Linked DNA regions of Homo sapiens. The protein of the gene in region 2 interacts with the protein of the main gene of each other region in a pairwise test. Each region holds a gene or a part of one and is shown on either strand. Other genes may lie near its edges. The genes, in order: EGLN3 and IK.

Evidence for each region.
Region 1: the proteins of IK (region 2) and EGLN3 interact in binary tests that used the Homo sapiens proteins (3 or more experiments, as listed by UniProt).

Annotation. Positions count from the first base shown.
Region 1 is NC_000014.9:33,926,878-33,934,159, forward strand, and holds part of EGLN3 (prolyl hydroxylase EGLN3), read right to left. Parts: intron 4,339-7,282; coding exon 4,219-4,338; intron 2,336-4,218; coding exon 2,199-2,335; intron 157-2,198; coding exon 83-156; intron 1-82. UniProt on the Homo sapiens protein: Prolyl hydroxylase that mediates hydroxylation of proline residues in target proteins, such as PKM, TELO2, ATF4 and HIF1A. Target proteins are preferentially recognized via a LXXLAP motif.
Region 2 is NC_000005.10:140,657,786-140,663,219, forward strand, and holds the end of IK (protein Red), read left to right. Parts: intron 1-951; coding exon 952-991; intron 992-1,153; coding exon 1,154-1,379; intron 1,380-1,529; coding exon 1,530-1,548; intron 1,549-1,970; coding exon 1,971-2,049; intron 2,050-2,329; coding exon 2,330-2,410; intron 2,411-2,972; coding exon 2,973-3,030; intron 3,031-3,834; coding exon 3,835-3,923; intron 3,924-4,113; coding exon 4,114-4,222; intron 4,223-4,393; coding exon 4,394-4,428; intron 4,429-4,516; coding exon 4,517-4,544; 3' UTR 4,545-4,695; downstream 4,696-5,434. UniProt on the Homo sapiens protein: Involved in pre-mRNA splicing as a component of the spliceosome. Auxiliary spliceosomal protein that regulates selection of alternative splice sites in a small set of target pre-mRNA species. Required for normal mitotic cell cycle progression.

The DNA.
Region 1 (7,282 bases), on a different chromosome or scaffold from region 2:
AACATGTTTAAAACTACATAAAATTGAATAAAAGTCAAGGATTAACTTGATCAAAAGTCACAGAAAATTATCAAACACATACTAGTTAAATTCCTGAATTTCTTTTTGGCTTCTGCCCTTTCTTCAGCATCAAAGTACCAGACAGTCATAGCATATCTGTGAAAGATAAGCAGATATAAGGAAAGAGATTTAATGGTACTACTAGAAACACAAATGTCCTATAAATCTCACATTAAAAGTTTTAAAGTTTTCTCTATTATTAGAAGTCTACCCTGATTTATTTATTTATTTATTTATTTATTTATTTATTTATTTTTTGAGATGGAGTCTTGCTCTGTTGCCAGGCAGAGGCGTGATCTCGGCTCACTGCAACCTCCACTTCCCAGGTTCAAGCGATTCTCCTGCCTCAGCTTCCCAAGTAGCTGGGACTACAGGTGCACGCTACCACACCCAGCTAATTTTTAAATTTTTAGTAGAGATGGGGTTTCACCATGTTGGCCAGGATGGTCTCGATCTCTTGACCTGCCCACCTCGGCCTCCCAAAGTGCTGGGATTGCAGGTGTGAGCCACCATGCCCGGCCTGTCTACGCTGATTTTAATTTAAAATTAACTTCTCTGGTTTTAATTCTATTTCAATGTAATAAAATGCATAAGGAATTCCAGGTATGTGCCAGAAATTATCTTGGGCATTAGGAATTCAAATGACCCTGTGATCAGATCTTCCTCTGCGATCTCAGGCTCCAAGTAGGGGAGACAGGTGATTTTGCAATAATGCAACAGGTAAACATAGCCTCTACAGAAAGGACTAGAAGGGAGTCATTCTGCTAAAGACTGGGAGACCCAAGTTGGTGGCGAGAACATAGAGAAGAGATGACATTTGAGTGAAGCTTTGAAAAACGACTTATGTAAATCACAGTATGTTTAAAACTCTTGGCTTGCTTTCTTTAGTTTTGGACATTGAGGCAAAATTGCAATTGAATAATAATAATGCCCCAGAGCTTTCTACTGCATCCCCACTAATTTGCTTTATCCCATTCATTGGATAGACTGTAATGGGAGCCATTTCATGCTTGGTTTTTTTTTAAAGTTTCATTTTGTAATGATTGTTAGCTACTTCCGTAGCTAACAATTTCTATAGCACTTGAGTTTTTTTCAAGGGACTTCTCATCAACATTTGCTAATGTTTTCCCTGTAAGGCCAGTCATCATGAGATTGGGGAATAACCAAAGACTTCTGCCACAAACAACAGGGTTTAGTTACATACCCCATAAAACACAAAAGCTGACTTCAGTGGTAGAATTCGTTCCCTGCTCATCTAGAAGACATTCCGATTTGGCAGTTAATATATAACTGGGTTTGGGGCTAAGCTGTGTGACTTCCGGAGGAGGGCACATGTGATCTTAATTTAATTAGGCTTGTTAGGGTTTAATCATCATCCTACCAAAATTCTCTCCTCCTGCCCCTGAATGCTAGTCTCAGTATAAGCTGCACTCCATAGCCCTCCAATGCTGCCCGGCTTATTGCTTTAGACACAGACAAAGGTAAATGAGAGGCAGAATTGAGAATGAAGATTTTTTGTCAAGATTGTCTAGATTGGTCCTAAACAATACTAAGGTGTTCAGTTACTCTGAGAATCTTCATGTGCACATGATAAAGAAAAGATTAATAAAACATCCAACTGTTGGACCATGGATACAGCAAGCCCAAGCCAATTTCAAACCAAGGAAAAGACAAAAAGAGAAAGTCAAAACAAATTACTCTTTCTCTTCTCAAGGCTCTTTCTCTGCTTGCAATTAGCAGCTTGTAAACTCATCCAAAGTAACCAGACAGAATTCCTGATATGTGACAGCCAACATTCTCTAGGCATAGTTCAACATTAGGTTTTTTAAAAAAAGGGAAAGAGAGATAAGAGAAGGGAGGAAAGGAGAGAAGAGAAAAATACTTTTGAGAAATTGGAATCCAATATGCTCATCTAATAGAAAACAACTTGTTAATAGTACTTTCAAACTGAGGTTAGGTTTGATATGCTAAAGAACGCAAAGTTTCCCCTTTAATTTTTGTAGACTCCAAACAAGTTTGCTATCAGCTATGGGGTGTGGTCAATCCCCCACATGCACAGGACACACGTTTAAAGAGTTCTCTGGAACTAGGGTTTGTACACCAAGCTCCGGAAGAGGAATCATGGCTCCGGCTATTACCTGGTTGCGTAAGAGGGCTGCACTTCGTGTGGGTTCCTACGATCTGACCAGAAGAACAGGAGTCTGTCAAAAATGGGCTCCACATCTGCTATGAATGATTTCCCCTCTGGAAATATCCGCAGGATCCCACCATGTAGCTGAAAGACACAAAGAAGGGGGATTATTTCTTACCTCTCATGTAGTTTATCAACAACCATATTTCAGCTCCATTTAGAAACATGCCATCTGCTAACCACCACTCCAAATGCATGGTACCCCAGATTTTTACTTCAACCTCATAGTTTGTACCAATTTGAGATGGAGTTTCACTCTTGTTGCCCAGGCTGGAGTGCAATGGCACGATCTCGTTTCACTGCCACTTCCACCTCCCTGGTTCAAGTGATTCTCTTGCCTCAGCCTCCCGAGTAGCTGGGATTAGAGGCATGCACCACCATGCCCAGTTAATTTTGTATTTTTAGTAGAGACGGGGTTTCCCCATGTTGGTCAGGCTGGTCTCGAACTCCCGACCTCAGGTGATCCGCCCACTAGGGCCTCCTGAAGTGCTGGGATTATAGGCATGAGCCACCACGCCCAGCCACTTCGTACCAAATTTTATATCAAACTTAGCTAGAGATATCTCCTTATTCACCTTAAACCAAAAAAAGCACTCCCACCCCCCACAGTCATAAAGCCCATGGACGTAAAATAGAGTACTATTAGATTGAATCATACCGATTTGCCAATATTTGAGTGTTTTTGACTTAAAAAAAAATGCCCAGTGATCTCACATGGTTCCATCTAACCATTAACAACTTTCTAAGAAAATCATCACATGTAACTTCCCCTTCAATTAGAATTTACAGCTCTTCTGAACTCCCTTAGCTCCTATCTGACCTCATTAGTTGGAAGTTACATGCTCTTTTTACTGAACTCTCAGACCACCTAATCTGCACCTTTTATGACATACACCACTCTCTTCCTTGAATTATTTTTTTTACATGTCAACCTATTTCATCCTACTAGAATAACCATATTCAGAGTAAAGTTCAGGCCTCACACATCAATGTTTCTTCATAATACAACGCCTGACACTAGCAGGAACTCAAATATTTGTTAAATGATTCCAGACCTTGCAATTTATTATTACCAGTCTGATAACTTTATTCTCTTGTCTCTATCAGCACCTCTCAAGATTTTAAAGGAGACTTAATGGATGTATTCCAGTCATGTTACCAAACAGGGAGAAGAGATAGGCCTTTTCACTGATTCAATGGTTTCCCAAGTTTCGTTTTTCTGACTCTGGATAAATATTATTGCTTTATGACAGCCAGTATTTGCCTAATGAACAGGAAATTGAGATGCAGAAGGTTCAAAAGCCAAATAAGCTTGAAAAGTTATCTGACTTCCCAGACTCCTAAATCATTCTTAACTTTCGGAAAGCATACAGAGTCCAGATGAATGTCTGTAAGCATGGAACCAGGCTTCATATCTCCATCTATCTATAAGTTCTATAATACAAAAATAAGCCACAAAGCCTTTGGCATTCACAAACCATAGTAAGCCATGGCAAGCAGCCATCAATGAGACATACCACCCCGAGGGAGAGGACTGTGTGGGAAATCTCTCTTGGGGATGGTTTTATAGCCTACAGTTCTATTTTTGTGGAACTTTCTCAATGCTGCTGCTGGGAGGGAAAAGTGTATATCCTATTCTGCATTGAGTCAGAACAACTCTGAATTAAACTGAAAAAAATTAATCCTTAATCCTAATATCAAATTACCTTCCCTTCATCAACCACCCTTCCCAGAGGTAGGGTTAATAATCACCCTACCTACCCCACTCCAAATTAACTTCATTGTTTTCTTCTTAACAACTTTAGGACTAATTCCATTGTCGCAGGAGGTTATGAAATGGAAATAGAAATGTTTCATCAGTGGGAGATACGGCAACTATGAACTCAATATAAACTCTCCTCTAAGTTATCTGAATCATTTTCCTGTAGTTTCTAACCCCACACTCTACTCCCATTATTCAAAAGTACCTTGGCATCCCAATTCTTGTTCAGATAGTAGATGCAGGTGATGCAGCGACCATCACCGTTGGGGTTGTCCACGTGGCGAACATAACCTGTTCCATTTCCCGGATAGCAAGCCACCATTGCCTATGGAGAAATCCCAAGAAAGCTGGTTAACAAAGCTGAGACAGACAATCTTCTCCTCCCACTGGTGAGCAGATAAGTAACACAGTCTCCTTGGGTGTTACGTGACATTTACAGGTAGTTGCTGGCTTCTTAATTTCATGTATGGTACATAAATTTGGACTCTTCTGTGCACAATGGCCAGGTCATACTATGGCTCTGCCCAGTGGAAAGTAGTTCAACAATATTCCCACAGTTCTAGAACATTTTACACAGTCTTTCTTAAAGTAACCTATCTGCATGCCCTGTTTGCATAACCTGTTTGTATGCCCTGCCTTTCTTCAATACTCCTTTTTGGAAAAGCAGTTTCTAGTTTCCCATGCTACAAAATCAGAGTCACTAGGTGTGGAGTTTAGGGATTATGACTGTTTAGCAAGTGCTGCTGAATCACTCACACTGTTTCAGAACAATGGCTAAAGGTATTTGCATACACAAAGTGACAGAACTAATCACCAAAGGAGGAAAAGGTCAGGCTTACTCAATAAAATGCTCAGGATAGAAAGAATAGAGGAAGATCAATAGGAAGCCGCACCCTAACTTGTTAACACAGACAACACAGGGAGATTCCTTTCAGGAAAAAAGCCATGCATGTATCTTAATATGTGTCTTCTTCCTGATAATTATGTAATCAGGTGATAATCTGAAGTTCTCTTTGTCTAAGTGCTACCTGTATCAACCAGGTGGAAGAATAAAGTAGAAAACCGTACCAAAAATCCTACTGAAAATTACCATTAGAGTAAACAGACCTCTAATTGTTCCAAGGGAAAAATTATAACACAGAGTGGGGAGGGGGAAGAAAGCAAAGTATAGAAAGCCAGTTCTTTTCTTCACAGGATACCGCCATGTTTGAAAAATATTTTTTATAGGGATGCAGTAGGTGCAAGGAAAATATTAGAACCAGCAACACAAGATGAGGACAGGGATTTTTTTTCCTGTTCTACTCACTGATGTATTCTTAGCACCTAGGACAGTGCCTGACATACAGAAGGTGTCCATCTAAAATGTGATAAATAAATCAATGAACTAGCGAATGGCTCTTTCTCTAAAGAGTAAGTTCACATTTTACCTAGATCAATAGCTATTTCTGTCATTTTAAAAGACCTATCTTCAAACATACATGTAAAGATCCAGGCCATATATTTCCTGATAAATGGCAGCGTTGCTTCATTGGTAAAATGACCGTTTGAGTAGAGCCCCAAGCTAATGGGCTAGTGGTTCAATGAATCAGCTTCAACGTGGCTGCCGAGTCACTCTCAATAGTAGCATGAAAACACGGAACTAGGCAAAACACACCTTGCATGCCAGATCAATAATAAGGCTGAATAGTAACTGGACTTTACAACAATTTTAAAGCTTAAATCACCATCTCTCTCAAACTTCATATCCTCATGCAGCAAACAATCCCCATATCCTGCCTTTGAACATCAAAATGTCAATGTGATGTCATCCTTAGAGCTCAAGTTAGGCTGTTAGCTTGAACATCTTTCAGAAGGTGAAACTGTGAGGCGACGTCAGCAATGAAGATTTAACAAATGATGGTACCACTAAGCAAAGCATGGCTTGAGGAAGGGTGATTGGTAGCAAACAGAATTGATGGGCCTAGCAAGAGAAGAAGAGACAAATAAAGTCACCTATAATGACTAAAGAATTACCCACCCCTGGAAGCAGCTATTAGGATTATAAGAGCCACCACAGAGCCAATAATGAAAGTCGCTTAAGCCACAAACAATTACAGGCTGGATTCCCTATTATCTCAGGCTCCCCCCACTGAGTGTGTCTGAAAAGAAAAAGTATGACATCAATGCTATAATCTTATATGCTTAAACAGCTCTTCTCTAAGGAAAAGGTCAGTGGTCTGGATGCCTGCCATAGTTCACTCTGCAACTAACTGTGATCCCAGGCTGTCTCTTTCCTATAAAGAGGGGATTGGGTTACGCAGCTGTCAAAGGCCCAAGAAGATCTAAGACTTGATCTAAGCATCAACCCTTGAAAAAGCAACATAGTTCTTCAGGTCATTAAGGAGTGTTTCTCTGCCTCAGAACTCAGCTCAGATTAAAATATTGAAAAAAAAAAAAAAGATGGATACAAACTCACAAAAGTAAATCCTCTACCAAATGCCGCATCTATAAAACACACAGAGACAAAGCCAATTCCAGAGGACTTACTATTAGGACAAAACCCCTACATGTCAGCAAAGTATCCGACTGCTTAAGAGGGAGGCAAAGAGATAATTTTTCTGGCCAGAGTGAACATTCACCCTCTCTCCTGGTTCCAGAAACCACATGCATCAAGTTGGAAACAATGGAAGGAAATCATTTCGAGCATCAGTGGGCCAGTTGAGGCTACATTTGGCCAATTTTATCAGTGTGTTTTCTGGATGAGTGCCATAGGAGATGGGTCTTTGCTTGGGCACATTCCCAACTATTTGCTCGTCTTTGACAGGGTCTAAAACCATGAGGCTAAGGATGCACCGAGAAGCAAGCCTGACTTCAATAACTAGCCATTCACTTCTGTGCCAATTTGTGCACGGGGCAGTAACAAACTCCGGAAACAGATCAGTCCAACTGAGTTGCTATCTAAACCTCATCAAGCCGGGGAAGGGATTTAGTGTTTAACAGAAGAGAAGTCTTCAATGCTTTATTGTTAAAAGAACGGGCCAGAGTAATTTAATGATCATATAACAAACATGCCAAGCAATAAACTGACACATATCAAGAGGATGCCTACTTTAGTACAGGCTTTTTATTTTCTAAAACTTCCTGACTAGATTAATATTTGAAGTTTACGCAAGTTTAACACAGTAGTGTCATCTACAGCAGCACATACAGTATAGTCCTATAGTTCTATTCTTGGATATACTGATAAATCCACATGTCCCCTTACACATTTACCGCTCTGTCCACTGACA
Region 2 (5,434 bases):
AGTACTGGAGCATTGGCAAGGAGACAGTTACAGCCAGATTCTGTCTCCTTAACCTACCTAAGAAGCAGTGGTCAGGTCTGAAGCATGAGGGATGGAGAGTGGGTAGCTTATGTCCTATTTATTTATTTTTTTTAAAAGAGATTTTTTGGTGAAAACCAGAAAACCTAGACAGATTCTAAAAAGGCTCTAATACTTGACCGACATTTTATTTTATTTTATTTATTTATTTTTTGAGACGGAGTCTCGCTCTGTCACCCAGGCTGGAGTACAGTGGTGCGATGTCTGCTCACTGCAACCTCTGCCTCCCGGGGTCAAGCGATTCTTCTGCCTCAGCCTCCCAAGTAGGCACTATAGGCACTATAGGCACGCATCACCACGCCTGGCTAATTTTTGTATTTTCAGTAGAGATGGGGTTTCACTGTATTGGCCTGGCTGGCCTCGAACTCCTGACCTTATGATGTGCCCACCTCGGCCTCCCAAAGTGCTGGGATTACAGGCATGAGCCACTCTTCCTGGCCTTATTTTATTATTTTTATTTATTTATTTATTTTGAGACGAGTCTCGTTTTGTCGCCCAGGCTGGAGTGCAGTGATGCCATCTCGGCTCACTGCAACCTCTGCCTCCTGGGTTTAAGCAATTCTCTTGCCTCAGCCTCCTGAGTAGCTGGGATTACAGGCACCTGCCATCACACCCGGCTAATTTTTTTGTACTTTTAGTAGAGATGGGGTTTCACCATGTTAGCCAGGCTGGTCTCAAACTCCTGACCTCAAGTGATCCGCCCGCCTTGGCCTCCCGAAGTGCTGGGATTACAGGCGTGAGCCACCGCACCCAGCCTTGACCCACGTTTTAAACAGAAGATGTTTAAAAGGGCATTAAGAGCTGGAGAGGATGGTGAAGTTCAGTGGAAATTAACTGAGGAGTATGTTCCTGACTCCTCTCTTTAAATTTCAGGGAAGCTGGAAGAGAAGAAACCTCCTGAGGCTGACATGAAGTATGTATCCTAGCCCCTGGCATCTGATCAGAGGGAGGGGGTCTGTACATTTCTTGTGTCTGGCATTTTGGGGAGGTGCTGACATGAGAATCTGGAGAAATGGTCAGGGGGAGTGAAGGTGTATGTGTGAATTTGGCCAGCTAGTGATCTCCATTTTCCCAGTATTTTTGAAGACATTGGGGATTACGTACCCTCCACAACCAAGACACCTCGGGACAAGGAGCGGGAGAGATATCGGGAACGGGAGCGTGATCGGGAAAGAGACAGAGACCGTGACCGAGAGCGAGAGCGAGAACGAGATCGGGAACGAGAGCGAGAGCGGGACCGAGAGAGAGAAGAGGAAAAGAAGAGACACAGCTACTTTGAGAAGCCAAAAGTAGATGATGAGGTGAGATGTGGGCCCTTAGTACCAGGTGATGGAGTTGCCCCTCTCTGGAAATGTGAGCAAGGTTGGGTAAGGAATTGTTTCAAACTTGGGGGAGGGATGAGTAGGAATCTCTCATGGTAACACTAACTTCACATTTTGTGTTCTTTCCAGCCCATGGACGTTGACAAAGGTGAGTTGTACACACAGCATCTCACAGTTGCTCTAGCAGTCCTGCTTTCCCCTGGTAGGGCTCAGAGCTGGCAACGGTGGGATTGGGGGACCTCCTGGTTCTGGGTTCTTGTAAGAACTGTGTCTTGCTTTATTGAATAGGTGGAGTTCCCTCCACCTTCCTGGGCCATGGCAGGGCATATTTGCTCTTAGATATAATTCCTGTGGCCCTGGGGTTCTGAGGAGGTGAGGTAGAGGTCAAGTATGGAATGTTCTGGATACCCTACCCTCATCTCAACCAGAGTGACTCATTAATTGGAGTTTGTTTAAAACTTTGTTAGACAAAAGGGTTCTATGCCTTAAAAATGTTTTTTAAGTGTGTTGTGGGGAGGAGGTTGTGAGAGCCTCAGTTCAAGGTCTGGGCTGAGTTCTCTTTTCTCCTAGGACCTGGGTCTACCAAGGAGTTGATCAAGTCCATCAATGAAAAGTTTGCTGGGTCTGCTGGCTGGGAAGGCACAGAATCATATCCTTTATTTTAATACGTTCCTGGGTTCCAGAGAACTGGTCTCTTTACTCCAACCCCCCCTGCCTCCCTGCTCCCTCCTACCCTGCCCCTCTCCTTCCCTTTTACGCTGAATTTTGACAGAATGAAACCATCCCTTGTTCCTTCCCAGAGCACCCATAACAGCTCACAGCCCACTCAGAATTTTCATGTTGGGGCTTCTAGCCCTTGGCCCCCTCCTGGCTGAAGCTTTACAGCAATAGGTAGAATCCTGTGTAGTGTTTTCTTTAACATAGCATATGCTGAAGAAGCCAGAAGACAAAAAGCAGCTGGGAGATTTCTTTGGCATGTCCAACAGTTATGCAGAGTGCTACCCAGCCACGTATGTGAAACCTGGTTAAGGAAGGGAGGCTGGGATGATTGGGAAACAAGTTGGGGGTGAAATGGAAATTTGATTCGCTAAGTCCCAGGGCTACTTCTTTTTTTTTTTTTTTTTTTTTTGGAGACAGAGTCTCACTCTGTCACCCAGGCTGGAATGCAATGGTATAATCTCTGCTCGCTGCAATCTCCATCTCCCGGGTTCAAGCGATTCTCCTGCCTCACCCTCCCAAGTAGCTGGGATTATAGGCATGCATCACCACACCTGGCTAGTTTTTGTATTTTTAGTAGAGATGAGGTTTCACCATGTTGGTGAGGCTGGTCTTGAACTCCTGACCTCAGGTAATCTGCCCTCCTCAGCCTCCAAAAGTGCGGGGATTACAGGAGTGAGCCACTGCGCCTGGCCCAAGGCTACTTCTTACTTGGATGAACTATTTTATTAGGCTCTAAGTGGGAGGTCTAGGGGGTGGTCATTCCTATGCAGATAACCTCTTAGTCGGGTAGGTTTCCAGATGAAGCATAGGGTCAGGGTATGCAACATCTGTTTAACTCTTGCTTCTCCTTAGGATGGATGACATGGCTGTGGATAGTGATGAGGAGGTGGATTATAGCAAAATGGACCAGGTATGTAGTTAGAAGGATGGTGGGCGCCTTTGGGCAGTTATTATTTGTTTTACATGTATCTCCTTCCCCACTCCTAAAAAATCTATCTCATTTACTGGGCCCCACCCTCCTTTAGCTGCAGCAGTAGAAACAGCAGCATTGAGGGTCATGAGCAGCTTAACTATTTCAGAGTCTTTGCACAAGATCAAATGACATAGGGTCAAAAATCTATTTTTTACTTCCTATAGCAAAGTGCCAGGCTTTGATTCCCATGGTAGGCAGTAAGCAAGCATCAATGCATAAGTAGAAAGGGCAGAAAAAATTGCAGTCTTTGGAAAATAACTAAATTTTATTCTAGCCAGGATTGAAGTTTTCCTCTAAGTCTTAAGCAAAATTAAAAAGAAAAAAACCACTAATGCCACTAATAGTGAAGAAGTCTGTGTTCTTCCCCTGAGTTCACTGTATTGAAATAGCATGGTTTAATCTTGGAGCCTTGTTTAATCCTGCCTCTACTGTTTATTAGTTTTGTGAACTTGCCAAGTTCTTTCACTGTTTATGCCTCAGTTTCCTCATCAGGAAAATGGAGAGAAATATAGTTCCCTCTTCATAGATTTTATGAGAATTAAGTGAGATATGCATTTAGTGTACAGAATAATGCCTGTCACATAGTAAGTATGTAATAAGCATTTATTATTACTTATCAGGGTATGATTTATGAATTGTGGAACCTGGGATTATGGGAGAGTCTGGCTTCAATCAAGGGCTGAAATTCCATTTCCACTGACATCTCTTCCTTCCCCATCCCCCGATTCTGTCCTGCAACAGGGTAACAAGAAGGGGCCCTTAGGCCGTTGGGACTTTGATACCCAGGAAGAATACAGCGAGTATATGAACAACAAAGAAGCTTTGCCCAAGTGAGTCGGTACTGAATATGGGCAGGGTGTGAGGAGGGGTGTGGGGATTTGGTGGAATAGTGCATATAAGGTTAGAGGGTGTGGTCTGGCTGAGATGTTCCCCACTAAGTTCTTTGCCCACAGGACTCTGGGAAAACCTCGCCACTGCTATGCAATCTCTGATGCATTCTTTCCCAACTGCTTTTTTCAGGGCTGCATTCCAGTATGGTATCAAAATGTCTGAAGGGCGGAAAACCAGGCGCTTCAAGGAAACCAATGACAAAGCAGAGCTTGATCGCCAGTGGAAGAAGATTAGTGCAGTAAGTAGGATGGCCCCTTGGGTGGGAGGGTTTCAGCTGGGAGAAGACATTAGCCTGCAGATTCAGGAACAGGCAAGGGGCTGGAGAGCCATGGAAATGAGAGGTCAGCCTTGGGCCTCAGGTGAGCTTAGATGGGCAGCTTGGTGATAGACTATCCTGTTGTTTTTGCAGATCATTGAGAAGAGGAAGAAGATGGAAGCTGATGGGTGAGCGGCATTATTCTTCCTCTGTGGGACTGGTGGGAATTGCTTAGTGTATTGATCTTATACTGACCCATTTCTCCTTCCATTGCAGGGTTGAAGTCAAAAGACCAAAATACTAATCACTAGTTACAACCAGAGATGCTCCACAAGGATATGCTCCCCACTGTTTTCTTTCTACAATTTCCAAAGGTTGCAAGATGTTTTTTTGTGGATGAATATAAAATTTTATTGTGTAATTACTTGGTTCCATTAAAATTGGTTAACTTGCTATTTTCTTTGTTGAGCATGTCCCCTCCAGTGCCCTTGAAGCACCAAGAACACTAATTCCACTGGTTGTGTAAAATCACATGCAGAAAGTCATCAGTCCTTTCCTGAGCTGTGGTTCTAGATTCCTAGACAGTAAGGATGCTCTCTAGCCAGTGTGCCCAGTAGAGAAGAGAATAATGATCCTCACTGATGGGCAAGAGGTGGATAGAGGAATGTAAGTATGATTGGTCTCAAATGTCAGACTCATTCCGGCCCATCTTCAGGCCTAGTCCCTGGGGAAAGATTTCCTGGGGATTGCTGTCAGCCTGATGGGCTGCTAATCTGATCTCCAGGCTATGAAGGACTGGGCTCTGGATGAAGGCATCTAATGAAAATCACTTATGGGTGGGAACCAAAACCTTTTATGAGTTTATGTACTATGAGCTTTATTAATGTTGAGTACAAATCACTGTCTCCTTGGCTAAAGGTGTAACCTTAGGGAAGTGCTTTGGGTTTAGAGCTGATATAGTGTGGCCCTGCAGGTACAGGAATTCCTATCCTAGACCAGAAGGGTTTGGTGCCCTTCATCACCCTGAAACATTTGCCAAGGCCCAGAATAGGTCTGTTGACCTTTGAATCACACCATTCCCTTCCCTTTTCTTCCCTTCTGCTCATTACCAGCACTTTGGCCTGGTGCTCATCATTAGGTGTCACTACTGCTTCCTGGCTGGATGCCACGCTGCCACTGTCTACCCTGAGCCCA